Linked DNA regions of Homo sapiens. The protein of the gene in region 1 purifies or fractionates together with the protein of each later gene. This does not show direct contact. Each region holds a gene or a part of one and is shown in the gene's direction. Other genes may lie near its edges. The genes, in order: NPTN, TBCD, MROH1, DSTYK, XPO6, EXOC6 and UCKL1.

Region 1 (3,500 bases):
GGCAAATACTGCTATGGATGTAAACAGGAATTTTTCCACTTAGTAACCTCCATTTTCAGCTAGCCCTGTTAACATCCTTGGCTTCTGGACTGTAGGAAAACAGTTCCATTTATTTCATCCTTTCCTCTGGAATGTTCTTAATTTGATGTTGGCAGATCCTGACCTCACTCCCTGCTTACTGCACAGGGGCTGGCTTGGCTTATGCAGCAGGCCTCCCAGGGGACGTTTCCAAGCCAATCAGAATGCCCTCTTTTAGTGTCTCTCTTTATACCTTCGGATACTGTCTGAATCAGTAGAAATGCTGAATGAACCCTAGGTGGGGTGGAAGGGTAAGAGAGAGTATGCTTGCACTCTGATTTTGTTTCCTATGGACCTAACTCCAAGTTTTTAAACTAAGCCTGGATTTTTTTTTTTTTTAACTCTTTCTGCCATTTCCACCTTGTCTTATGGAAGTGTAACCTCAAGCAAATTATGGGCAATTAGAGGTAGGCATCAACTTTAGTTCCTGGGCAGTTCCTAAGAGTGTTGGTTGAGGCCTGGCTTTCACCCTAGTGTTTAGTTTAATTCATCAGGGTACATTTCTCATTCTTCTGAGCTGGCTTCTAGAAGCCAGGCAATTCAACTGTATGGAGCCTGTCAAATACCATAGCTTTTCAGATTTTTCTAGGTAATGGATCTATGGGGTTATGGAGGGCACAGTCCCTCCATTAGCTGGCAGTGAGTTGGGTTGCTGGTATTGTTGGTCCCACTTCTGAGCTGACCCACAAAGTATTAATATCTCACTGTGGTGTGAAGTACAGACTGTCTTGTTCTCCTGAGGGTCTGCATTCAGGAAGAGGCTGCCTAACGCTAAACAACTGGGTTGTTTGTTTGCCATAGGCCCAGGGAAGAATAGGAGGTGGAGAAAGTCTAATCGAACCCAGGATAGAATCCTGTGTGAGAGAGAAATTTGCTACTCTTTCAGTTGAAATTTGAACTCTGAATCCCAAGAGAAGGCACCAGTAGGTCATTTAATACTTCTTGTTGAGGCTTGCAAAAGACACTGCATTTCTAACAAAGCGTTTGCCCATCCAAAAGAGAGATCCTGATTTGGCATATAAAACTACTGCCTCTTCTGGTTATCTTTCATCACTTGCCTGAGTTTAAAAAGGTAATAAATGGTTTGTGTTCTAAGGAAAGAGGCTCTTCCCAAGACCTGAGGCTTTCTCATTCCTACCAGCTGGGCCCATTGCTAAAATGCTTTCCAGTGGGCTTGCTTCTGCCTGGCCAGCACCTGGGCTGCCCCAGCTTGTAATTAGCCTGCCTTTGCTTCATAAGCTTCCCAGGGTGTGGTTCTTCTTCTAAAAGCTTGTATGAATTGCTGTACTGTCTCTTTATAGTTTAAAAATGAATCCTTTTTTGTTCTTTGCAACTCATTTGCTTTTTTCTTTTCTTTTCTTTAAATTACTATTAACACCTGTTGATTCTTTTTTTTTTTTCTGATTGGCCTGTCACTGCATTCCTGCTCCCCCTCCCTCTAGCTGGGTTTGTCAAGTCGCCCATGTCAGAAACTAAGCTCACGGGGGACGCCTTTGAGCTGTACTGTGACGTGGTCGGGAGCCCCACGCCAGAGATCCAGTGGTGGTACGCAGAAGTCAACCGGGCAGAGTCTTTCAGACAGCTGTGGGACGGTGCTCGGAAGCGCCGTGTCACCGTAAACACCGCCTACGGGTCAAACGGCGTGAGTGTGCTGAGAATAACCCGGCTCACCTTGGAGGACTCTGGGACTTACGAGTGCAGGGCCAGCAACGACCCCAAGAGGAATGACTTGAGGCAAAACCCCTCCATAACATGGATTCGAGCCCAGGCCACCATAAGCGTCCTTCAGAGTGAGTCCAGCACCCTACAGTAGTAGTACTGTAGTCATTAGAGGTGGCCCAATGACCCTTCCCTTCTGCATCCTTTCCCTCTTCCCCAGTATGATCACTCACCCCACCCCTTGTCTTCGTTTTTTTTTCAATCCCATGACCCTTCTGGTTGTAGTGTATGAAAACATCTGTGGCAACTTTTTTTCTTCTTTTCTTTGCCGTTCTCTCTGCCTCCCTTATCCCCCAACCCTTCTCTGTGTCTTTCTTCTCAGGAACAAAGAACTTGAGGAAATCCGTGACTGTCCAAAATCATCTGTGTTGGGAAGAGTTGGGGAGGGAGAACTGGGAAGCTTAAATTAAAACTCATAAAACCAGGCAGTCCAAGGAGGGTAGTGTTGAAATGGTTTTCCCTCCCCTTTGATTTTGTAGTAGGTTTCCTGCTATACTTTTGCTGATTTCTTCTCTGGTGCCTTTCTATTTTTGTTTCTCTCCCCAGTCTAACTACTTTTTATTTCTTCTGTTCTTCTGTTTGAAGCTCTCTAAGTAGCTGCCTTCACCTCTATGGTTTTAAGTTTGTGTCTGCCCAGCCTCTTCCTTTAACTGTGACTTGGTGTCATCTTGTTGTGATGGGAATGTTGCCATGGGTGCAGTGTGGTGGTGTGTTTTGGTTGTTGGGTGGCATGTAAGCTTGGATATTTTCATAGTTCCAGCTCTTTTTCTTTTCTAAAACCGTGGCATGTGCTTCTCTGATAACAGCCCTCTACTGCAGCAGTGTACTCCTCACTGGGCCTGCTAATTAGTCTCCTCTTTAAAAGCAGCAGCCTGGGACTTCCTTCTTATGTTTTGCTGTTAGGAGCCAGGTGACACTAAGCTGCAAATTATTATTTTTTTAGCCCATCACACTGTTTGGAAGTCAGAGTTGCAGTTGATTCCTGTTCACGGTTTGACTCTGATGAGTAGCTGTTGGCACAGTGTACCTTATCCCAGAGCATGGGAACTCCAGACATAGTGTGGGGACCACTCACACTGGCCTTTTCTTTGTGTCTTGAAAAAAGAGGAAACTAACTTCCAACCTGGTTTCTCATAGTGATGGGGTGAGCTGACCAGCTGGCTCAGAATCCTCTCCTTGTAGCAGGTATGCGTGAGACATATGACACCGGGACTTTTGTGGCCACTTCTCTCTCTTTCTTGAAAGTGACTTGCTACCTTATGTTGAGAAGCAGAGAGAGGGAGAAGCCACCACAGAACCAACGTTCCTGGCCAAGAAGAGTTCTGGCCCCACATCAAACCTGGTTATAATTGAGGGGACATTCACTTTTGGAAAGATCCTCTGGGTTTTTCACCTTCTCTTTGAGGACACAATGAGAGATCTATAGCCAGTTCCAGCTTAAAGAGCTGATTGATCTAGAGAAAGTAAGAATAGTAAAATCTTACTTTGATGAGGAATTTGGTAATAACATAAAGTAGTAAGACATGGGCCTTGAGTCTATATACTTAGATGGAAAATAGCAAATTAGTGTCTGTTCTTTGTAGCCACTTGAAGATCCTATGGGTAAAAAAAGAGTCCTTTGTAGGGCAGTGGTAGGAGAGGCTGCTGCAGTTGGCACTGTTGAATCAAAGAACCTGCTTCTGGAAAGAGGAAAAGAAAACCTT
Region 2 (3,500 bases), on another chromosome or scaffold:
TGGAATTCCTTTTTAGAAAAAGGAAAATGTAGTCGTGGGATGCTGGTCCTTTGTCATTTGTTGCACATTTTTCCACCCTTTTGCTTTTTTTTTTTTCTTTTTTTTTTTTTTTTTTGAGATGTAGTCTCTCTGTTGCCCAGGCTGGAGTATAGTGGCCCAATCTTGGCTCACTGCAACTTCTGCCTCCAGGGTTCAAGCGATTCTCCTGCCTCAGCCTCCAGCGTAGCTGGGATTACAGGCGTGTGCTACCACGCCTGGCTAATTTTTTGCATTTTTAGTAGAGACAGGGTTTCACCATGTTGGCCAGGCTGGTCTCAAACTCCTGACCCCCACGTGATCTGCCCACCTTGGTCTCCCAAAGTGCTGGGATTACAGGTGTGAGCCATTGTGCCCGGCCTGCTTTTGCCTTTTAATATTGTGTCTGGTGTATTTTATCTACTGAAGTTTTTTCGTGTTTGTTTTTTTAAAGAGATGGGATCTCGCTCTGTCACCCAGGCTGGAGTGTAGTGGCGCAGTCATAGCTCACTGCAGCCTTGAGCTCCTGGGATTAAGTGATCTTCTCACTTCAGCCTCCTGCAGAGCTGGGACAACAGGCACAAGCTGCCATGCCTAGTTAATTAAAAAACTTTTTTTTTTGGCCAGGCGCAGTAGCTCATGCCTCTGATCCTAGCACTTTGGGAGGCCGAGGCGGGTGGATTACAAGGTCAGGAGTTCAAGACCAGCCTGACCAACATGGTGAAACCCTGTCTCTACTAAAAATACAAAAATTAGCTGGGCATGGTGAAGCATGCCTGTAATCCCAGCTACTTGAGAGGCCGAGGCAGGAGAATTGCTTGAACTGGGACCCAGGACGCGGAGGTAGCAGTGAACGAGATCGTGCCACTGCACTCCAGCGTGGGCTACAGAGCCAGACTGTCTCAAAAAAAAAAAAATTTTGTTTTTGCAGGGTCAGGGTCACGCTGTGTTCCTCAGGCTGGTCTCGAACTTCTGGCCCCAAGCAATCCTGCCTTGGCCTCCCACAGTGCTGGGATGACAGGTGTGAGCCACTGCACCCAGTCTCTACTGAAGTTTTAGAAATATTTAGCTTGTCAAACTATCAGTTTCTTTGTGTTTGGCCTTTGGTAGTACGGTTAGAAAGTTTATTTTTCCTAATCAGTTATGTAAGCCTCATTTATTGGATGATTTAGTGGCCTCTCCCCTACTTGAAATGCCATTTTAAATCTATATTAAATATTCAAATATATTAGCCTTTGCTTTTAGATTTTTTATCCTGTTCCATTGACCTATCTGTATGCTCTTTTTTCTGGGTCATTTCGTTTGTTTGTTTTTTTTTTTTTTTTGAGATGGAGTCTCGCTCTGTCACCCAGGCTGGAGTGCAGTGGCGTGTTCTTGGCTTACTGCAACCTCCGCCTCCCAGGTTCAAGAGATTCTCCTGCCTCAGCCTCCCGAGTAGCATGTGCCACCACGCCTGGCTAATTTTTGTATTTTTAGTAGAGAACGGTTTTCATCATGTTGGCCAGGATAGTCTCGAACTCCTGACCTCAAGCAGTCTGCCCGCCTTGGCCTCCCAAAGTGCTGGAATTAGAGGCGTGAGCCACCACGCCTGGCCTGGGTCATTTTGTTTGATGTTAGTTTATATTTTGCCTGGCATCCTTTCCTCTTATTTTCTTGATGGTTTTGTAGCCCGTTCATTAATGCGGATGAACTCCGGAATTATTTTATCACTCTCCACCCTTTGGAATTCTATTAAATTCACAAATTCATGTAGGGGAGAAGTCTTTCTAAGATTTAATTTTCATGTCTAAGATCATGGTATTATGTCTCTAATTATTCACATCTTTTGTGTTCCTCAGTGAAGGTTGGTGATTTTCTTTAGATGATTCCTGGAGACTTTTTTTTAGGTTTATTTCTAGGTATGTTTTGTCTTTTATTGCTCTTGTGAAACTATTTGTTATGTGTTCTAACTAGTTATTGCTGATGTCTAGTGAAGATATGTTTTGTATACTGTTTTTGTAAATGGCAACACTGTAATGGAATATGTATGTGTAAACATACATTTCTTAACATCTTTATAGGGATATAATTACATACTATAGAGTTCACTCTTCTAAATATACATTTTAGTGTTAGTGTATTAGTGTATTACAGAGTTGTGTAACTATCACTACCACAATCTAGGCATTTTCATCATCTGAAGCAACCCAACTCCCATCAACAATTCCTTCCCATTCTCTGCTTCCGCAGTAACCACTCATCTGGCTCTGGGTTTGTGTGTATTCAGCATTTTGTGTGATGGAATCATGCAGTAGGAGGTCTTTTGGCACTGGCTTTTTTCACTTAGCATCATGTCTATGAGGTTCACTGTGTGATGAAATGTTTACTTCAATAGTTTTTCAGTCTTTTTTTTTTTTTGGAGACAAAGTCTTGCTCTGTCACCCAGGCTGGAGTGTAATGGCGTGATCTTGGCTCACTGCAACCTCCTTCTCCTGGGTTCAAGCGATTCTCCTGCCTCAGCCTCCTGAGTAGCTGGGATTACAGGCGCCACCTGTAAAATTAGCCTGGCCAATTTTTGTATTCTGAGTAGAGACAGGGTTTCACCATGATGGCCAGGCTTGTCTTGAACTCCTGACCTCAGGTGATCCACCTGCCTCGGCCTCCCAAAGTGCTGGGATTACAGGCGTGAGCCACCGTGCCCGGCCAGTTGTTTCTTCTGGGTTTTCTTAGCAGGTAAATATTATATGGTTTGTAAATAATGCTACTCTTTATCCACGATTATAAATTTTTATTCTTAGAACATTTTATTGAGTTTTAATTTTATTGAGTTTAAAATTTACCTACTATAAAATGCACCCATTTTAGTAAGATGTTTGAGTTTCGGTAAATGTATACACCCCGCGCTATCAAGATATGGAACATTTCTGTCATCCCAAGGAGTTACTTGATGTCCTTTTGCTGTCAGTCCCCTCACCCCAGCCCTAGGGAACCACTGTTGGTTAATGGTACTGTTCATTAGTTTTGCCTGTTCTAGAATCATTCAGTATGTGCTCTTTTTGTCTTCCGTTGTTAAAATAACATCTCCGGGACTTACCATTGTTGGTGTGTGTATCAGTAGTTTGTACGTTTTCTCTCGTGCTGATAAATCACAATTTGTTTCTTCTTTTTTTTTTTTGAGATGGAGTCTTGGTCTGTTGCCCAGGCTGGAGTGCGGTGGAGTGCAGTGGTGCGATCTCGGCTCACTGCAAGCTCTGCCACCCGGGTTCACGCCATTCTCCTGCCTCAGCCTCCCGAGTAGCTGGGACTACGGGTGCCCGCCAACACACCCAGCTAATTTTTTTTTTATTTTTAGTAGAGACGGGGTTTCACCTTGTTAACCAGGATGGTCTCGATCTCCTGACCTCGTGATCCGCCCGCCTCAGCCTTCCAAAGTGCTGGGGTTGTTTCTTCTTTTATCTGTTGATGGACATTTGAGTTGTTTCCGGTTTTTGGCTGTTATTAATAAT
Region 3 (3,500 bases), on another chromosome or scaffold:
TGTGGGGGTGATGGCGTCCCACGGTGTGTTAAGCAGATACACTCACTGCCTGAGCTCACTGCAGTAGCAATGAGACGTGCTTTGGAATTATCACAGTAGTTCAGTATGTGCTACACTTAATTCTGTGTAGCTGTGATTCAATACTGCATCTTTTTTTTTTTTTTTTTTTGAGACAGAGTTTCACTCTTGTCACCCAGGCTGGTGTACAATGGCATGATCTCAGCTTACTGCAACCTCCGCCTCCTGGGTTCAAGCAATTCTGCCTCAGCCTCCCAAGTAGCTGGGATTACAGGCATGCGCTACCACGCCCAGCTACTTTTTTTTAAGATGGCTTGCTCTGTGGCCCAGGCTGGAGCGCAGTGGTGCAATCTCAGCTCACTGCAACCTCTGCCTCCTGGGTTCAAGCAATTCTCTGCCTCAGCCTCCCGAGTAGCTGGGATTGCAGGCACCCGCCACCATGCCTGGCTAATTTTTGTATTTTTAGCAGAGATGGGGTTTCACCATGCTAGCCAGGCTGGTCTTGAACTCCTGACCTCGTGATCCACCCACCTCGGCGTCCTAAAGTGCTGGGATTACAGGCATGAGCCACCACGCCCGGCCTAATTTTGTATTTTTAGTAGACACAGGGTTCCTCCATGTTGGTCAGGCTGGTCTCGAACTCCTGACCTCAGTTAATGCGCCTGCTTCAGCCTCCCAAAGTGCTGGGATTACAGGTGTGAGCCACCGCACCCGGCCTCTCAATACTGCGTCTTTATGTTTGTTTAGATTTTTCTTGACTGCAGATGGCAGCATGTAGGGTCTGTAAGTGTGCATATATATTTTGATAAATTTTAACTTCTTACAACAGATTTGTGTATATTTCATGGTAGTAAATGATAAAATAGACTAGTGTCTACATATATTTTATGCATTCATGACATATTTCACATTTTCTTAAATTTTTTTGATATCTCTAGACTACGTTTGTCCATAAGTTTTTCCAACGTGTCACAAATCTCCAAAAAGTTTTCCAATATATTTATTGACACAAAACTGTGTATAAGTGAACCCATGCAGTTGAAACTTGTGTTGTTCAAGGACCAACTGTATGATGTTAATTACAGGTTTTTCTTAGGTGTTTTTCTTTTTTTTTTTTTTTTTTTGAGATGGAGTCTTGCTTTGTCACCCAGGCCAGAATGCACGATCTCAGCTCACTGCAACCCCTGCTTCCTGGGTTCAAGTGATTCTCCTGCCTCAGCCTCCTGAGTAGCTGGGACTACAGGCGCCCACCACCACTCAGGCTAATTTTTGTATTTTTAGTAGAGACAGGGTTTCAACATGTTGGCCACACTGGTCTCGAACTCGTGACCTCAAGTGATCCATCTGCCTCAGCCTCCCGGAGTGCTGGGATTACAGGCCTGAGCCACTGCACCCGGCCAGTTTTTCTTAAGTAACAAGTTGAGGCCGGGCGCGGTGGCTCACGCCTGTAATCCCAACATGTTGGGAGGCCGAGGCGGGTGGATCACCTGAGGTTGGGAGTTCGCAACCAGCCTGACCAACATGGAGAAACTCCGCCTGTACTAAAAATACAAAATTAGCTGGGCGTGGGGCGCATGTCTGTAATCCCAGCTACTCTGGAGGCTGAGGCAGGAGAATCACTTGAACCCGGGAGGTGGAGGTTGTGGTGAGCCGAGACTGCGCCATTGCACTCCAGCCTGGGCAACAAGAGTGAAACTCCGTCTCAAAGAAAAAAAAAAAAAAAAAAAAAAAGTTGAGCAGGTTTCCTTCTCTTCCTAGTTAAGGTAGTTCCCTTCTCTTCTTGAGAATTTTTATCATAAGTGGACGTTGGATTGTGACAAATGCTTTTTCTGCATTTATTGAGATGATCGTGATGTGAATTATATCAGCTGAATTTAAAAATATTAAAACCAGCTGGGCACGGTGGCTCACACCTATAATCCCAGCACTTTGGGAGGCCGAGGCCGGCGGATTGCCTGAGCTCAGGGGTTTGAGACCAGCCTGGCCAACATGGTGAAACACCATCTCTCCTAAAAAAATACAAAAATTAGCCAGGCGTGATGGTGTGTGCCTGTAGTCCCATCTACTCAGGAGGCTGAGGCAGAAGAATCGCTTGAATGTGGGAGGCAGAGGTTGCAGTGAGCCGAGATTGCACCATTGCACTCCAGCCTGGGTGACAGAGCAAGACTCTGTCTCAAAAAAAAAAAAAAAAAAAAAAGAATTTGCACATCTGTGTCCATAAGGAATATTGCTTTGTAGTTTAATTTCTTTTTTTTTTTTTTTTTTCTTGAGACAGAGTCTCATTCTGTCCCCAGGCTTGAGTGCAATGGTGCTATCTCGGCTCATTGCAAACTCTGCTTCCTGGGTTCAAGCAATTCTCTTGCCTCAGCCTCCTGAGTAGCTGGGATTACAGGCGCACACCACCACGCCTGGCTAATTTTTGTATTAGTATTATTATTTTTAGACAGAGTCTCACTGTGTTGCCCAGGCTGGAGCGCAGTGGCGTGATCTCGGCTCACTGCAACCTCCGCCTCCCGCATTCAAGGGATTCTACTGCCTCAGCCTCCTGAGTAGCCGGGATTACAGGCGTGCGCCACCACGTCCAGCTAATTTTTTTGTATTTTTAGTAGAGAAGGGGTTTCACCATGTTGGTCAGGCTGGTCTCGAACTCCTGACCTTATGATCCGCCTGCCTCAGCCTCCCAAAGTGCTGGCTTGAGCCACCATGTACAGCTAATTTTTGTATTTTTAGTATAGACAGGGCTTCACCATGTTGGCCAGGCTGGTCTCAAACTCCTGACCTCAAGTTATCCACCCGCCTTGGCCTCCCAAAGTGCTGGGATTACAGGCGTGAGTCTGTATAGCTTTCTTACAAGGTCTTTGGTTTTGTTATGAGAGTAATGCTCAGAAAATTAGTTGGGAAGTAGTCTTTTCTTTTTAATTTTTTCAGGAAGAATTTGTGTATAGTTGGTATTATTTCTTCCTTCCATGTTTGGTAGAATTCCCCAGGGAAACCATCTAGGTTTTATGGGAAGGTTTTTTACTATGAGTTCGATTTCTTTTTAGATATGGGACTATTTAGGTTATCTCTTTGTGAGTGAGGTTTGATAGCTTGTAGCTTGTGTCTTTTAAGGGATTTGCCTATTTCTTTTTCTTTCTTTCTTTCTTTTTTTTTTTTTTTTTTTTGAGAAGGGGTTGCTTTGTCACCCAGGCTGGAGTGCAGTGGTGCAGTCTTGGCTCACTGCTACCTCTGTTTCCCAGGCTCACGTGGTCCTTCCACCTCAGCCTCCTGAGTAGCTGGGACTACAGGTGGGTGCCACCATGCCCAGCTGATTTTTGTACTTTTGGTAGAGATGGGGTTTTGCCATGTTGCCCAGGTGGTCTTGAACTCCTGAGCTTGAGTGATCCACCTGCCTTGGCCTCCCAAAGTGCTGGGATTACAGGCATGAGCCACTGCGCCTGGCCATCTATTTCTTTCTTTTTTTTTTTTTTTTTTTTTGAGAT
Region 4 (3,500 bases), on another chromosome or scaffold:
GGGGTCTCACTTTGTTGCCCAGGCTGGTCTCAAACTCATGGCCTCAAACGATCCTTCCAACTCAACCTCCCAAAGTGCTGGAATTACAGTAATCAGCCACCACACCCAGTCCTCAACTTTCTTTTATGAATGTTAGTCTCTGATTAATAGGAACTTGGGTGTTGAAGGAACACTCAATTCTTACCCTAACAAACCTGTAGGTTTTAAGCATCACTTCAGAATGGAACTGTGCCTCTAGGTTGATGTAGTATGGTATTTGAGCAACTGAAAGAAGACCAGGGATTAACTCTAAATTTGAAATGATTGGAGTATAAGTATGGTAACAATAGTAAAACAATTTTCATGTCTATATACCATTTGTAATGCCATATGATACCAAAAATTTTTATTGTCTCACTTTCACCCACAAAAGAGTAAAGGACCCCAAAATAATATTTGCCTCTAACATTTTATAGTTCTGAATTCACTGGGGTCAGTGTAGAGAATATGTAATGTACATGATATTTTAGAATTTAAAAAGTAAGGCTGGGTGCGGTGGCTCACACCTGTAATCCCAGCACTTTGGGAGGCTGAGGTGGGTGGATCACCTGAGGTTGGGAGTTGGAGACCAGCCTGGCCAACATGGAGAAACCCCGTCTCTATTAAAAATCCAAAAAAATTAGCTGGGCATGGTGGCACATGCCTGTAATCCCAGCTGCTGGGGAAGGCTGAGGCAGGAGAATCACTTGAATGTGGGAGGTGGAGGTTGTGGTGAGCCGAAATCACGCCATTGCACTCCAGCCTGGGCAAGAAGAGCGAAACTCTGTCTCAAAAAATAAATAAATAAATACATAAATAAAGGCTTTGAGCACTTCTGAGGAAAGGCAGGGTGGAGTATTAAGAGTAGCAGAGGGAAAAGTATTTTTTTTCTTTTTTTTTTTTTTTTTTTTTTTTTTTTTTTTTTTTTTGAGACAGAGTCTCTCTGTATTGCCCAGGCTGGAGTGCAGTGGCGTGATCTTGGCTCACTGCAACCTTCACCTCCCATGTTCACGTGATTCTCCTGCTTCAGCGTCCTGAGTAGCTGGGACTATAGGCGCCTGCCACCAGGCCCAGCTAATTTTGTTTTTGTATTTTTAGTAGAGACAGGGTTTTACCGTGTTGGCCAGGCTGGTCTCAAACTCCTGACCTCAAGCGATCTGCCTGCCTTGGCCTCCCAAAGTGCTGGGATTACAGGCATGAGCCACTGTGCCCGGCATGGGAAAGTATTTTTCTTGTTTTATTATCCAGTAAAGTTCCTAGCTGTTGCAATTTGTCATAAGCCTCTCAATTTTAAGAAATTGGAGTGGGCCGGGTGCGGCGGCTCACGCCTGTAATTCCAGCACTTTGGGAGGCCGAGGCAGGTGGATCACTCAAGGTCAGGAGTTCGAGACCAGCCTGGCCAACGTGGTGAAACCCCATCTCTACTAAAAGTACAAAAAATAGCCAGGCATGATGGCGCGTGCCTGTAACCCCAGCTACTCGGGAGGCTGAGGCAGGAGAATCGCTTGAACCCAGGAGGCGGAGGTTGCAGTGAGTCGAGATCGAGCCATTGCACTCCAGCCTGGGTGTCGCAGCAAGACTCTGTCTCAAAAAAAAAAAAAAAAGATACTGGAGTGACTTAAATATGTGTTGTTGGAGTTCTGTGGTCTGTGGTGCCTTCTTTGAATCCTGGTTTCACCTCTTACTAACCAAATGATCTTGGACAAATCACAACTGTGCTGTGCCTTTATTTCCTCATCTGGAAATAGGGATTATAACAGTACTGATCTCTAGAGTTCTTGGGAGTGAATCTATGTGCATGTTTAGAACAGGACCTGGGCCGGGAGCGGTGGCTCATGCCTGTAATCCCAGCACTTTGGGAGGCCAAGGAGGGCGGATCACTTGAGGTCAGGAGTTTGAGACCAGCCTGACCCTATCTCTACTAAAAATACAAAAATTAGCCGGGCAGGGTGGCAGGTGCCTGTATGCCAGCTACTCAGGAGGCTGAGGCAGGAGAATCGCTTGAATCTGGGAGGCGGAGGTTGCAGTGAGTCGAGATTGCCCCACTGTGCTCCAGCCTGGGCGACAAAGCAAGACTCTGTCTTTAAAAAAAAAAAAAAAAGAACAGGCCAGGTGCGGTGGCTCACGCCTGTAATCCCAACACTTTGGCAGGCTGAGGCGGGTGGATCACCTGAGGTCAAGAGGTTGAGACCAGCCTGACCAACATGGAGAAACCCCATGTCTACTAAAAATACAAAATTAGCCGGGCATGGTGGTGCATGCCTGTAATCCCAGCTACTCAGGAGGCTGAGGCAGGAGAATCGCTTGAACCCGGGAGGCGGAGGTTTTGGTGAGCCGAGATTGCACCATTGCACTCTAGCCTGGGCGACAGAGCGAGACTCTGTCTCAAAAACAAAAAACTAAAAAAAAAACCAAAAAAAACCAGTGCCTGCTAAGGTGCTATGTAAGTATTAGCTATTATTCAATAAATACCTGAGTGCCTGGTATGTACTGAGCAATGTGCTGCGTATGGGGGATAAAGAGTCAAATAAAGACATTGGCCTTGGCCTTAGGCCAGTGAAGATCAGTCTTTCCCTTCTATACTTTTAAGAAAGAAAAAATAATTATAATTATCATCAATAATCATTTATGTTTGATGATGGATTAAAAAGGTCTAAGAAGACCTGAACTTGGTCCTCTAGAAAGGTATAATCTAATCTAAACCATATACGTGTGCAACACATAAAACACGTACATAAAAAAGCAGAATGCTAAGGGAGGTTATAAGCATTTTATATGAGTTATAATTCTCAGGTTTTTTTTATAGCTCTTTGCCTTTGGTGAGCTTACAGCTATGTTTCTCCAACATTCTTCACCTTCTTTTTGTCACACCTTTTAAATGTGCCAGCATTTAAAAGAAGGGGAAAAGCACTAGTGTACTTATTTAAAATAGGCATTTTCGGCTGGGCGCGGTGGCTCACTCATGTAATTCCAGCACTTTGGGAGGCTGAGGCAGGTGGATCACCTGAGGTCAGGAGCTCGAGACTAGCCTGCCAGCATGGTGAAACATCGTCTCCACTAAAATACAAAAAATTAGCTGGGCATGGCGGTGCGGGCCTATAATCCCAGCTGCTCAGGAGGCTGAGGCAGGAGAATCGCTGGAACCCAGGAGGCAGAGATTGCAGTGAGCTGAGATCATGCCAGTGCACTCCAGCTTGGGTGATAGAGTGAGACTGTGTCTCAAAAAAAAATAATAATAATAAAATAAAATAAATAGGCATTTTCCTTGGTCATCTTAGAAATTTGTATGATAAGTAAGTTTAAGTGGCAGAGTGACATTTGGGGAAGGGATGAAAAGTTGGGAAAGAGGAGATTCTTTAGAGCTTCATTTTATAGAGCTGTCATCTTTATGGGGCTTAGGGGTGGGGAGAAGCTGGGATTGTGAGGTGGAGCACAGTGACAGCAGTGCTGAGACTGGGATGGGTGTACTCTGTGGTAGTTTG
Region 5 (3,500 bases), on another chromosome or scaffold:
AAACCAAACATAGTCTTTGCCGCCTCAGTTATTCCCTAGCCAGGTGGAATGTGTGGTGCAGTGGAAGCTTAAACTCCAAAATCTGACATCAAAGCTCTGTTTATAAAGCTGTCACACCTGGTAGTTGTCTACGCTTTAGTCTGCAGCTAGGAATGTTAAATTTGTACTAGTTCTGAAGTCAACACATGATCACTTAAGTTCTTTGATTTTGCTTTTATAATTTACCTTTCTCTTAGGTGAGCATGTGTCACAGAAAGATTGAATAAGATTCAGTAGACATTGACTAACTGCCTTCTGTGCTCTAGTCAGCGGTGGCAATGTTTAGATGATGAATATCTTAGTTTTTAGGTTCTACGTGAACCGGTAAATGATTTCTATGCTGTTGCCCATGTCTTAGAACAGCAAATGCAGTGGATGCAATTCTTACCTCCTATGAAAATGAGTTGAACGCTAATATATTTTCACCTTAACCTTTAAAATCACATCTTCTTTTCTTTCTGCAGGCATGCTCAGTCCCTGGCTGCGCTGCAGGCTTACTCTCACTGGTTAGCACAGTATTGCAGTGAAGTTCACCGGCAGAACACGCAGCAGTTCGTGACACTCATCTCTACTACCATGGATGCAATCACACCTCTAATCAGCACCAAGGTCTCGAAACAGCAAAGCCTACACCTTTTATCTAACTCTCTGTCTCTCCTTCTGTTCCTATACCCATTTACTAGAAAATCTAAATATGACACAGAGTTAGACCCATAAATCTTTCTGCTGTTATACATCTGTTTTATTTCATGTTCCTTTTTAGTTGTAGCCTACATGCATTCAGATACAACTTTACTTTTTTAGTTATCTGAGTTCCACATGAATACATGCTCACTGTGAAAAAGTAAAATATCATTCAGATTTCCAGACTAAAAAGTTGTGATACCTCTGAAACATTTTCCTTCGCGCGGTAAGCACAGTTGGGCAGTGGTTGTGCAGGCACACCTCATTTTATTGCACTTCCCTTTATTGCGCTTCACAGAGACTGTGTTTTTTACAAGTTGAAGGCTTATGGCAACCCTGCATCAAGCAAATCTGTCAGCACCATTTTTTTGACAGTATTTGGTGCTTCCATGTGTTACATTTTGGTAATTGTTAGAATATTTCAGACTTTTTTGTTACTATATCTTACAGCGATTTGTGATCAGTGATCTTTAATGTTACTATTGTAATTATTTTGGAGTGCCACAAACCAAAGACTGCAAACTTGATTGATAAATGTGTGTGTTCTGACTGCTCCACTGATTGGAGGCTTCCCCATCTTCCTGTCTTTAGGCCTCCCTATTCCCTGAGCCATTTAATAACCCTACAATGACCTTTACGTGTTCGAGTGAAAGGAAGAGTCACATGTCTCTTACTTTAAATAAAAATCTAGAAATGATTAAGCTTAGTGAGGAAGGCGTGTCAAAAGCCAGGATAGGCCAAAGGCTCTTTTTTTTTTTTTTTTGTCGTTTTTGTTGTTGTTGAGATGGAGTCTCGCTCTGTCGCCCGGGCTGGAGTGCAGTGGCGTGATCTTGGCTCACTGCAAGCTCCGTCTCCCGGGTTCACGCCATTCTCCTGCCTCAGCCTCTTGAGTAGCTGGGACTACTGGCGCCTGCCGCCTTGCCTGGCTAATTTTTTTGTATTTTTTGTAGAGACGGGGTTTCACCATGTTAGCCAGGATGGTCTTGATCTCCTGACCTCATGATCTGCCCGCCTTGGCCTCCCAAAGTGCTGGGATTACGGGCGTGAGCCACCGCGCCCGGCCTGGCCAAAGGCTCTTGAGCCAAACAGCCAAGTTGTGAATGCAAAGGAAAAGTTCTTGGAGGAGATTAAAATTTCTGCTTCAGTGAACACATGAGTGATGAGAAAGTACAACAGCCTTGTTGTTGATATGAGGAAGGTTTCAGTGGTTTGGATAGACCAAGCTAGCCACAACATTCCCTTAAGCCAAAGCCAAATCCAGATCAGGCCCTTCAATTCTGTGAAGGCTGAGAGAGGTGAGGAAGCTACAGAAGAAGAGTTGGAAGCTAACACAGGTTGGTTCATGAGGTTTAAGGAAAGAAGCCATCTCCAGGATGAAGCAGCAAGTGCTGATGGAGAAGCTGCAGCAAGTTCTCCAGAAGTTCTAGATCACTGCTGAAGGTGGCCATACTAAACAACAGATTTTCTGTGTAGATGAGACAGCTTTATACTGGAAGAAGGTGCCATCTGGGACTTGGATAGCCAGAGAGGAGGAGTCAGTGCCTGGCTTCAGAGGACAGGCCAACTCTCTTGTCAGGGGGCAACTGCAACTGGAGACTTCAGGTTGAAGCCAGTGCTCATGTATCATTCTGAAAATCCTAGGGCCCTTAGGAATTATGCTGAATCTACTTTGCCTGTCTCTATAAATGGAACAACAAAGCCTGAATGACAGCACATCTGTTTACATCATGGTTTACTGAATATTTTAAGCTCATTATGGAGACCTGCTCAGAAAAAAAGATTCCTTTCAAAATCTGCTGATTGGCAATGCACCTGGTTACCTAAGGACTCAGATGGAGATGTTCAAAGATATTAGTTTCCATAGTTTCCATGGCTGCTCACACAACATCCATTCTGTAGTTCTGTAGCCCATGGGTCAAGGGGTAATTTTGGCTTTCAAGTCTTACTGTTTCAGAAATACGTTTCATAAGACTATAGCTGCCATAGATGGTGGTTCCTCCAGTGGATCTGGGCAAATAAACTGAAAACCTTCTGGGAAGGATTCACCATTCTAGATGCCATTAAAGACATTCATGATTCATGGAAGCAGATCAAAATATCAGCATTAATGGGAGTTTGGAAGAAGTTGGTTCCCAGCCTCATAGATGACTTTAAGGGGTTCAGGACTTCAGTAAAGAAAGTAACTGCAGATGTGGAAATAACAGGAGAACTAGAGGCGGAGTCTGAAGATGGGATGGAATTGCTGCAATCTCAGGATCAAGCTTGAACAGATGGGGACTTGCTTCTTGTAAATGACCAAAGAAAGTGGGTTTTTGAGATGGAATCAACTGGTGAAGATGCTGTGAACATTGTTGAAATAACAGAGGATTAGAATAACACATAAACTCAGTTGATGAAGCAGCAGCAGGGTTTGAGAGGACTGACTCCAACTTTGAAAGAAGTTCTACTGTGGGCAAAATGCTATGAAACGGCACCGCATGCTCCAGAGAAATATTTCATGAAAGGAAGTCAATCGATGCAGCAAACTTCATTGTTGTCTTATTTTAAGTAATTGCCACAGCCACCCCAACTTTGAGCAACCACCACCCTGTTCAGTCAGCAGCAGTCACTTTCAAGGAAGACCCTTCACCAGCAAAAAGATTACCGCTCTGAAGGCTCAGATGATTGTTAGCATTTTTAGCAATAAACTACTTTTTAACTAAGATATGTACATTGTTTTCTTAGACATAATGCTTATTGCACACTTTATAGACTATAGTGTAAACAAAACATATGCA
Region 6 (3,500 bases), on another chromosome or scaffold:
CCAATAATGGGACTGCTGGGTTGAATGGTAGTTCTTTGTGTTTGTTTTTGTTTTTGCTTTTGTTTTTATTTTGTTTTGAGACAGGAACTCACTCTGTTGCCCAGGCTGGAATGAAGTGGCACAATTATGGCTCACTGCAGCCTCGATCTCCTGGGCTCAAGTGATCCTTCCACCTCAGCCTCCCAAGTAGCTGGAACCACAGGTTCGCGCCACTGCTCTTTGCCAATTTTTGTATTTTTAGTGGAGATGAGGTTGTGCCATGTTGGTCAGGCTGGTTTTGAACTCTTGGCCTCAAGCAATCCACCCACCTCAGCCTCCCAAAGTGCTGAGATTACAGGCACAATCCACTGCGCCTGGCCCACAGATTTTTAAAAGTAGTATTTTAATAAAAAGTAAAAGGATGCAAAAATGTTAGCCTGTATCTAAGGCAGTAGTTCTCAACTGGGGATAATTTTGGTTCTCCTGCCACCACCTCCTCCCCACAAATTTGGCAATGTCTAGAAACATCTTTGGTTGTTACAGTTCAGGGGAGAGGTGCTACTTGAAACTAGTGGATAGAGGCCAAACATCCAAATGTGCAGGACAGTCTCCACGACAAAGAATTATCCACCCTAAAATGTCAATAGTGCCGAGATGGATAATCCATGGTCTACAGACAGTTTAACTGTTGTGATAATGAGGCTGTATCCAAGAAATCATTATTTACTTAAATTGAAGACCGAATGGTTAGGAGAAGAGAATTTGTTTTTTAGTGCTAGCTTAGTAATACTTAGGATGTTAAGAAACATCATATTAAAATTAGTTTAAGGTAATTTATTTCTTTGAAGACTTAAAAAATCAATGAAAATGGATAACTTAGTTATATTAAAAATTAAATTTGTTTATTATATCTAGAAAGAGCTCATATCAGTTTGTATTTTAAAAATAATTTTTAGCTATAGTTGTGTATGAAGTTTCTTTCAAAGTGACTGTCTTTTGGGGCTGGGCGCGGTGCCTGACGTCTGTAATCCCAGCACTTTGGGAGGCCAAGGTGGGAGAATTACTTGAGTCCAGGAGTTTGAGACCAGCCTGGGCAACATAGTGCAACCCTGTTTCTATAAAATATTTGAAACTAGCTGGGCATGGTGGCATGCATCTGTAGTCCCAGCTACTCAGAATGTTGAAGTGTGAGAATTGCTTGGGTCCAGGACTTTGGGGCTACAGTGAGCTATAATTGCACCACTGTACTCCAGCCTGGGTGACAAAGTGAGACCCTGGCTCAAAAACAATAATAAAAATAATAAAACAACAAAGTTACTATCCCATGATGGAGTCGGAATTTAGGAATAATTTTGTTTCCTTATACCAAGTCCTCTATGATTTTTCTGTGGTTGTTAATTGGATAAATTTAAATTATGCCATATATGAATATTCTACTTTATGGAAAATGTCCCTTTTGCAAAGTTAAATTGAAGTTTGTGATTTAATAAATATGGGTCTTTGTAGTTTATTTAAAGATATAAAATAATGATGGGGAAAATTATTTTAGTAAACTGTGTTAAATTATTTAGGATGTTAACTAACCACATTCATTATTTATTAAGTTTAATAATATCAATCTTTGTTTTTAGCTCAACAGAAATAGACGATATGCTTAGAAAATCAACAAATCTGCTGCTGACCAGAACTTTGAGTAGCTGTTTACTGAACCTTATTAGAAAACCTCATATAGGTTTGACAGAGGTAGGTTAAAAAGACACATATAGTGAAATGTTTCATTGTATGAAACAATTATTTTAAATTATTGCTGAACGTCATTCTGTAAAACTAGCTTCCTGTTTTAAATGTATTAATATAAGCAGATTTGTTTTCAAAATAAAAACACCAGTGTAAATTCCAGAAATGTGAGGATCCCAGGCACAGTGGCTCATACCTCTAATCCGAGAGCTTTGGGAGGCCAAGGCAGGAGGATTGTTTGAGGTCAGGAGTTTGAGACCAGCCTGGGCAATATAGTGAGACCCTGTTTCTACAAAAAATGAAGACTATTAGCCAGGCGTGGTAGTGTGCAACTATATTCCTAGCTACTCTGGACTTGAGCCCAGGAGGTTGAGGCTGCAGTGAGTTACAATCATACCACTGCACTACACAGCCTGGGTGACAGCAAGACCCTGTCTCTGGAAGAAAAAATAAAAAAATGAGGGAAAAGGGTTCATATGGGGAATAGTAGATAAAGATGTTAGAATATCTATTTAGATTTCTGATTGCCAGACTACAGGAAAAGTCACAATCCTAATTTTTTACTTGCTAAATGTTTAAGATTTGAAACATACTATGAAAAGTTATTTTAAAATAACTGGTATTTAGACTCTTGGTGTGTGTGTGTGTGTGTGTATATATATATATATATAAATTCATACGCAGTATTTGCAACAGGCTTTTAAAATCAGATAGTTGTATCCTATAATGCTGCAATTATGTAGAAATGGTACAGTTGCTGGAAGTAATAATCCCATTTTTAAAAATTAGGTGATTTTACATACATGTAACCTGTATTTTACTAGATATATCTTGTGTTTTCTAGCTGGTACAAATCATCATAAACACAACACACCTGGAGCAAGCTTGTAAATATCTTGAGGACTTTATAACTAACATTACAAATATTTCCCAAGAAACTGTTCATACTACAAGACTTTATGGACTTTCTACTTTCAAGGTATGTAAAAATTTGACCAAAAGTTTTCATTTCAGTCACTGTAAGCAGACGTTAAGAAATTAAAGACCGTTCTTATATATGCAAGATCTACTATATTCCTAAAAATTAAGAATAGAGGTATTCATTGTCAACAATGAGCAAGTAAATGTCAGTTTCTTTTTGGCACTGTAAACATCTTATTAACATGGAGAAAAGTATACTTATTTTCTACAGTGTATTATGCTTTGTTCATGTTTTGATGATTTATAGTAGTGCTGACTAGGTCTAACTGAATTAATATTTCACAGTTTAAAAATTAATTCTATATGAGTGTTTATTTTTGAAAATTTAAAATGTAAGACAAATTAAAAAAGGATAGATTTGTTTTCCATCCTTGATTGGTTCTGATCTGAAGAAAAATAAATATTATTACATGTCATTGAAGTCCTACCTCTTTTGCGGGTGGAAAGATTTCTGTTTGAATAATATACAGAATATACTGAGGATTAATTAATGGTTGTTTTAGGTAGAATGTAAGATTAAACAATTTCATAAGGTATTTTATTATTTGGAGTCATAGATGAGACACTGGCTTAGTCTAGTGTGTATAAATCCCCTTGAATTGAATATTTTATTAAACTAATGATAAACCATGTACTGATCACTTATCTGTAAAATGGGCTTGCTAATTTAACCTTACAGCTCTTTCTAAAAGTTTCCTATTAAAAAGAATTCTCTTTAACTACTTTTGTTATATTATCAATCACCCCCAAGATTTTATTGTAGTAACTTGCATTGTAAAAAATGAATGTACTTGTGTTTTAAA
Region 7 (3,500 bases), on another chromosome or scaffold:
ACCAGCCGTCCAGCTTCCGGTGCCTGCATGAGTCTCCGCTTGGCCCTCTCCTCGGCCTAGGAACCCGCAGGTCTTGTCCCGTCAGGTTCCTCCTGAAGCTTTTGTTCTGAGAGGAAAAACTTTCCAGGGTTTCAAACTTGGAAAAACACCTGAACGCAGCCAGACACATTTTCCGTCGTCTGGTCAGCCAAGGAAGTGTTGGCCTGTGGCTGCACTCACTTCCTTCAGCCCCAGGAAGCCTTGGTCGGGGGCAGGAGGGAGGGTCAGGCAGGGCTGGGGGCCTGACCGCCCACACTCCTCCTCAGGCCTGCGGGGAACGCCCTGCTCCCCAACTAAGCAGCCTTCTCTTTGTTCTCTTCCTTCTCTCTGTAAACCCCCGTTTCCTGCCTTGTTCCCTCCCTGAACATGCTCTTCACCTGGCAAGCAGAGGAAGCTACGTTGGGATATGTGAGCAGTGTGCTCCGTGGTGCTGCTGTGTGACCCGCCTTCCCGTAGCCCCTTGCCCCGCTGCTCCCGCTAGGCCCTCTTTCCTGCTCCTGCCCCGCCCCTTTCCCTGCCGCTGTCACGCCTCTTTTCTGCCCTGCCACACCCCATTTCCGGCCCCGCCCCTTTCCCTGCCGCTGTCACGCCTCTTTTCTGCCCTGCCACACCCCATTCCCGGCCCCGCCCCTTTCCCTGCCGCTGTCACGCCTCTTTTCTGCCCTGCCACACCCCATTCCCGGCCCCGCCCCTTTCCCTGCCGCTGTCACGCCTCTTTTCTGCCCTGCCACACCCCATTCCCGGCCCCGCCCCTTTCCCTGCCGCTGTCACGCCTCTTTTCTGCCCTGCCACACCCCATTCCCGGCCCCGCCCCTTTCCCTGCCGCTGTCACGCCTCTTTTCTGCCCTGCCACACCCCATTCCCGGCCCCGCCCCTTTCCCTGCCGCTGTCACGCCTCTTTTCTGCCCTGCCACACCCAATTCCGTGCCCTGCCTCTTTCCTTCCCCTGCCACACCCAATTCTGTGGCCTGTCGCTTTCCTCTTCCTGCCCCTGCATCACCCCCTTTCCTGCCCCGCCCCATTCCCTGCCCCTGTCATGCCCCTTTCCGGCTTTGCCTCCTCCCTGTCCCACCTCTTTCTTGCCTCCACCCCGCCCTTTTCCTGCCCGCTCCTAGACCTGCTGCTGCCCCGGCCATCCCCAGGCTTGGGCAGCGGGGCGGGACGGGACAGCCAAGAGACACTGAGCCAGCTTTGCCCCCCACCCCCCTCTCTTGAGGGGCCGCGCACCACCTCGGGGAGGAGCCAGGGCGGGGCCTGACCCCACAAAGCTTTAGTTCCCCCGGGGAGAGGCTGGGGACAAGCTACCCATTCTGGGGTATGACACCTATCAGCACGTGTGAGCCCGCCCTGTGCCCGGCCCACTTCTGCTTCCTCTTAGCGCAGGAGGGGTCCCGCACTGGGAGGGGCCCTCACAGCCTACCCCGCTAGCTTTCTGCCTGATGGTGAGCTTGCCCCGTTGTTCGCCGCCATCTTTCGCCTTTGCCTGACAGCTCAGGTAGGGCGACGTCTCCCCCCAGCTCAGCCCCAGGCAGAAGTCAGGCCCGCTCTGCACCTCGTGCTGTGCCTGGCCCGTGTGTTCCCCTCACAGTGACGCACAGCCGTCCTGTGGGGAGGGAGGGCTCTGGGAAAAGACCCCCTTCTTGAGTGTTCCCCATCGGTTTGTCCCCAGGGCTGCGCTGGCCTCGGCACACCAGTGCCACCCGCTGCCCCGGACGCTGAGCGTCCTGAAGAGCACGCCGCAGGTACGGGGCATGCACACCATCATCAGGTGAGGGCCCACCTGGGGACGGGGCGGCCCCGGGCGCGTGCTCCCGCTCAACTGTTGGCCCCACAGGGACAAGGAGACCAGTCGCGACGAGTTCATCTTCTACTCCAAGAGACTGATGCGGCTGCTCATCGAGCACGCGCTCTCCTTCCTGCCCTTTCAGGTTCGTAGCCCGTAGCCCGCGAGGTGGAGGGTGGGTCTTGGAGCCGGTGCGAGCTCCCTGCGCTCACCGGAGTCCTCACCCTGCACCCCACAGGACTGCGTCGTACAGACCCCGCAGGGGCAGGACTATGCGGGCAAGTGCTATGCGGGGAAGCAGGTACCTGCCTGGGCACACCTGGGCGCGGGACAGGCTGCTGGGGCGGGATGTGGGCGCTTAGCCTCCCCTCCCCGCAGATCACCGGTGTGTCCATTCTGCGCGCCGGTGAAACCATGGAGCCCGCGCTGCGCGCTGTGTGCAAAGACGTGCGCATCGGCACCATCCTCATCCAGACCAACCAGCTTACCGGGGAGCCCGAGGTGCCTGGGGGCAGCCGGGGTGATGAGCCCGGGGGTAGGGGGCAGAGGGAGCTCACAGCAAGGGGACGCAGGGAGCCCCACCTGCAGCCTGACCCCTGCTGCCCGCAGCTCCACTACCTGAGGCTGCCCAAGGACATCAGCGATGACCACGTGATCCTCATGGACTGCACCGTGTCCACGGGCGCGGCGGCCATGATGGCAGTGCGCGTGCTCCTGGTGAGTGAGCCCTGGGTAGGCGGGGCAGGTTCAGGCAGAGGTGGGATTTACCTGCCCAATACACTCGGTAGGACCACGACGTGCCTGAGGACAAGATCTTTTTGCTGTCGCTGCTCATGGCAGAGATGGGCGTGCACTCAGTGGCCTATGCATTTCCGCGAGTGAGAATCATCACCACGGCGGTGGACAAGCGGGTCAATGACCTTTTCCGCATCATCCCAGGCATTGGTGAGGCTGCCCGGGCCCTTCAGCCGCACATGAGGGCAGGGTGGGTGGCCCTGGGAGGCCCCACCACACTGGACCCCCCCCCCCCTTTTTCCAGGGAACTTTGGCGACCGCTACTTTGGGACAGACGCGGTCCCCGATGGCAGTGACGAGGAGGAAGTGGCCTACACGGGTTAGCTGCCCAGTGAGCCATCCCGTCCCCACCACCCTCCTCCTGCCTCCTGACCCAGGACTGCTGAATACAAAGATGTTAATTTTTAAAATGTTACTAGTATAATTTATTCTATGCATTTTATAAAATAAATAAAGCTTTAGAAAAATGAAGGTGTGATTGGTTACAGCACAGGAGAGGTGTCCTGGCTGAGGCATGCATTTGTGGAGACTCCCATGGGGAGGGAGGGAGGGAGCTGAGGGCCCTGCCTTCTCCCCTGCAGGACCAAGCATTCCCAGTCTTGCACTTGTGCCAGATGAAGGAAGGGGTAGAACTGGGCCCTGCAGCTCCTAGCTCTGCTAGATGGGGCCCCTAGAACCCATAGCTTGGTGGCCACCTGGCCTGGACCTAGGGAGGGGACAGGGCCCCCTGGTGCTCTGGGTCTCACAAGAGGCAGGCTGTTTTGCCCCCACCCACAAATTTGTACCATCAGGGTCCTCCCCACAGTTGGGGGGGGGGAGGGTCCTTCCCGTCAGGACAAGTCGCTGGAGGCAGCAAAGCCAGGAGGCAGACCAGGGCGGAAGT

The links.
Region 2: the proteins of NPTN (region 1) and TBCD purify together in Homo sapiens (co-immunoprecipitation; 2 studies listed by BioGRID and IntAct, with this or other methods). This does not show direct contact.
Region 3: the proteins of NPTN (region 1) and MROH1 purify together in Homo sapiens (co-immunoprecipitation; 2 studies listed by BioGRID and IntAct, with this or other methods). This does not show direct contact.
Region 4: the proteins of NPTN (region 1) and DSTYK purify together in Homo sapiens (co-immunoprecipitation; 2 studies listed by BioGRID and IntAct, with this or other methods). This does not show direct contact.
Region 5: the proteins of NPTN (region 1) and XPO6 purify together in Homo sapiens (co-immunoprecipitation; 2 studies listed by BioGRID and IntAct, with this or other methods). This does not show direct contact.
Region 6: the proteins of NPTN (region 1) and EXOC6 purify together in Homo sapiens (co-immunoprecipitation; 2 studies listed by BioGRID and IntAct, with this or other methods). This does not show direct contact.
Region 7: the proteins of NPTN (region 1) and UCKL1 purify together in Homo sapiens (co-immunoprecipitation; 2 studies listed by BioGRID and IntAct, with this or other methods). This does not show direct contact.

The regions. Positions count from the first base shown.
Region 1 is NC_000015.10:73,595,390-73,598,889, reverse strand, and holds part of NPTN (neuroplastin isoform b precursor), read left to right. Parts: intron 1-1,520; coding exon 1,521-1,868; intron 1,869-3,500. UniProt on the Homo sapiens protein: Probable homophilic and heterophilic cell adhesion molecule involved in long term potentiation at hippocampal excitatory synapses through activation of p38MAPK. May also regulate neurite outgrowth by activating the FGFR1 signaling pathway.
Region 2 is NC_000017.11:82,758,565-82,762,064, forward strand, and holds part of TBCD (tubulin-specific chaperone D), read left to right. Parts: intron 1-3,500.
Region 3 is NC_000008.11:144,154,516-144,158,015, forward strand, and holds part of MROH1 (maestro heat-like repeat-containing protein family member 1), read left to right. Parts: intron 1-3,500. UniProt on the Homo sapiens protein: Lysosome fission factor. Recruited to lysosomes by RAB7 (RAB7A or RAB7B) at scission sites and homooligomerizes to mediate the constriction and scission of lysosomal tubules. May sever membranes by inserting amphipathic helices into one bilayer leaflet.
Region 4 is NC_000001.11:205,205,203-205,208,702, reverse strand, and holds part of DSTYK (dual serine/threonine and tyrosine protein kinase), read left to right. Parts: intron 1-3,500. UniProt on the Homo sapiens protein: Acts as a positive regulator of ERK phosphorylation downstream of fibroblast growth factor-receptor activation. Involved in the regulation of both caspase-dependent apoptosis and caspase-independent cell death.
Region 5 is NC_000016.10:28,114,466-28,117,965, reverse strand, and holds part of XPO6 (exportin-6), read left to right. Parts: intron 1-503; coding exon 504-648; intron 649-3,500. UniProt on the Homo sapiens protein: Mediates the nuclear export of actin and profilin-actin complexes in somatic cells.
Region 6 is NC_000010.11:92,953,020-92,956,519, forward strand, and holds part of EXOC6 (exocyst complex component 6), read left to right. Parts: intron 1-1,610; coding exon 1,611-1,722; intron 1,723-2,560; coding exon 2,561-2,695; intron 2,696-3,500. UniProt on the Homo sapiens protein: Component of the exocyst complex involved in the docking of exocytic vesicles with fusion sites on the plasma membrane.
Region 7 is NC_000020.11:63,939,417-63,942,916, reverse strand, and holds the end of UCKL1 (uridine-cytidine kinase-like 1), read left to right. Parts: intron 1-190; exon of another isoform or gene 191-286; intron 287-424; coding exon of another isoform or gene 425-1,154; exon of another isoform or gene 1,155-1,708; coding exon 1,709-1,807; coding exon of another isoform or gene 1,808-1,873; coding exon 1,874-1,967; intron 1,968-2,060; coding exon 2,061-2,123; intron 2,124-2,200; coding exon 2,201-2,323; intron 2,324-2,431; coding exon 2,432-2,539; intron 2,540-2,610; coding exon 2,611-2,767; intron 2,768-2,861; coding exon 2,862-2,941; 3' UTR 2,942-3,088; downstream 3,089-3,500.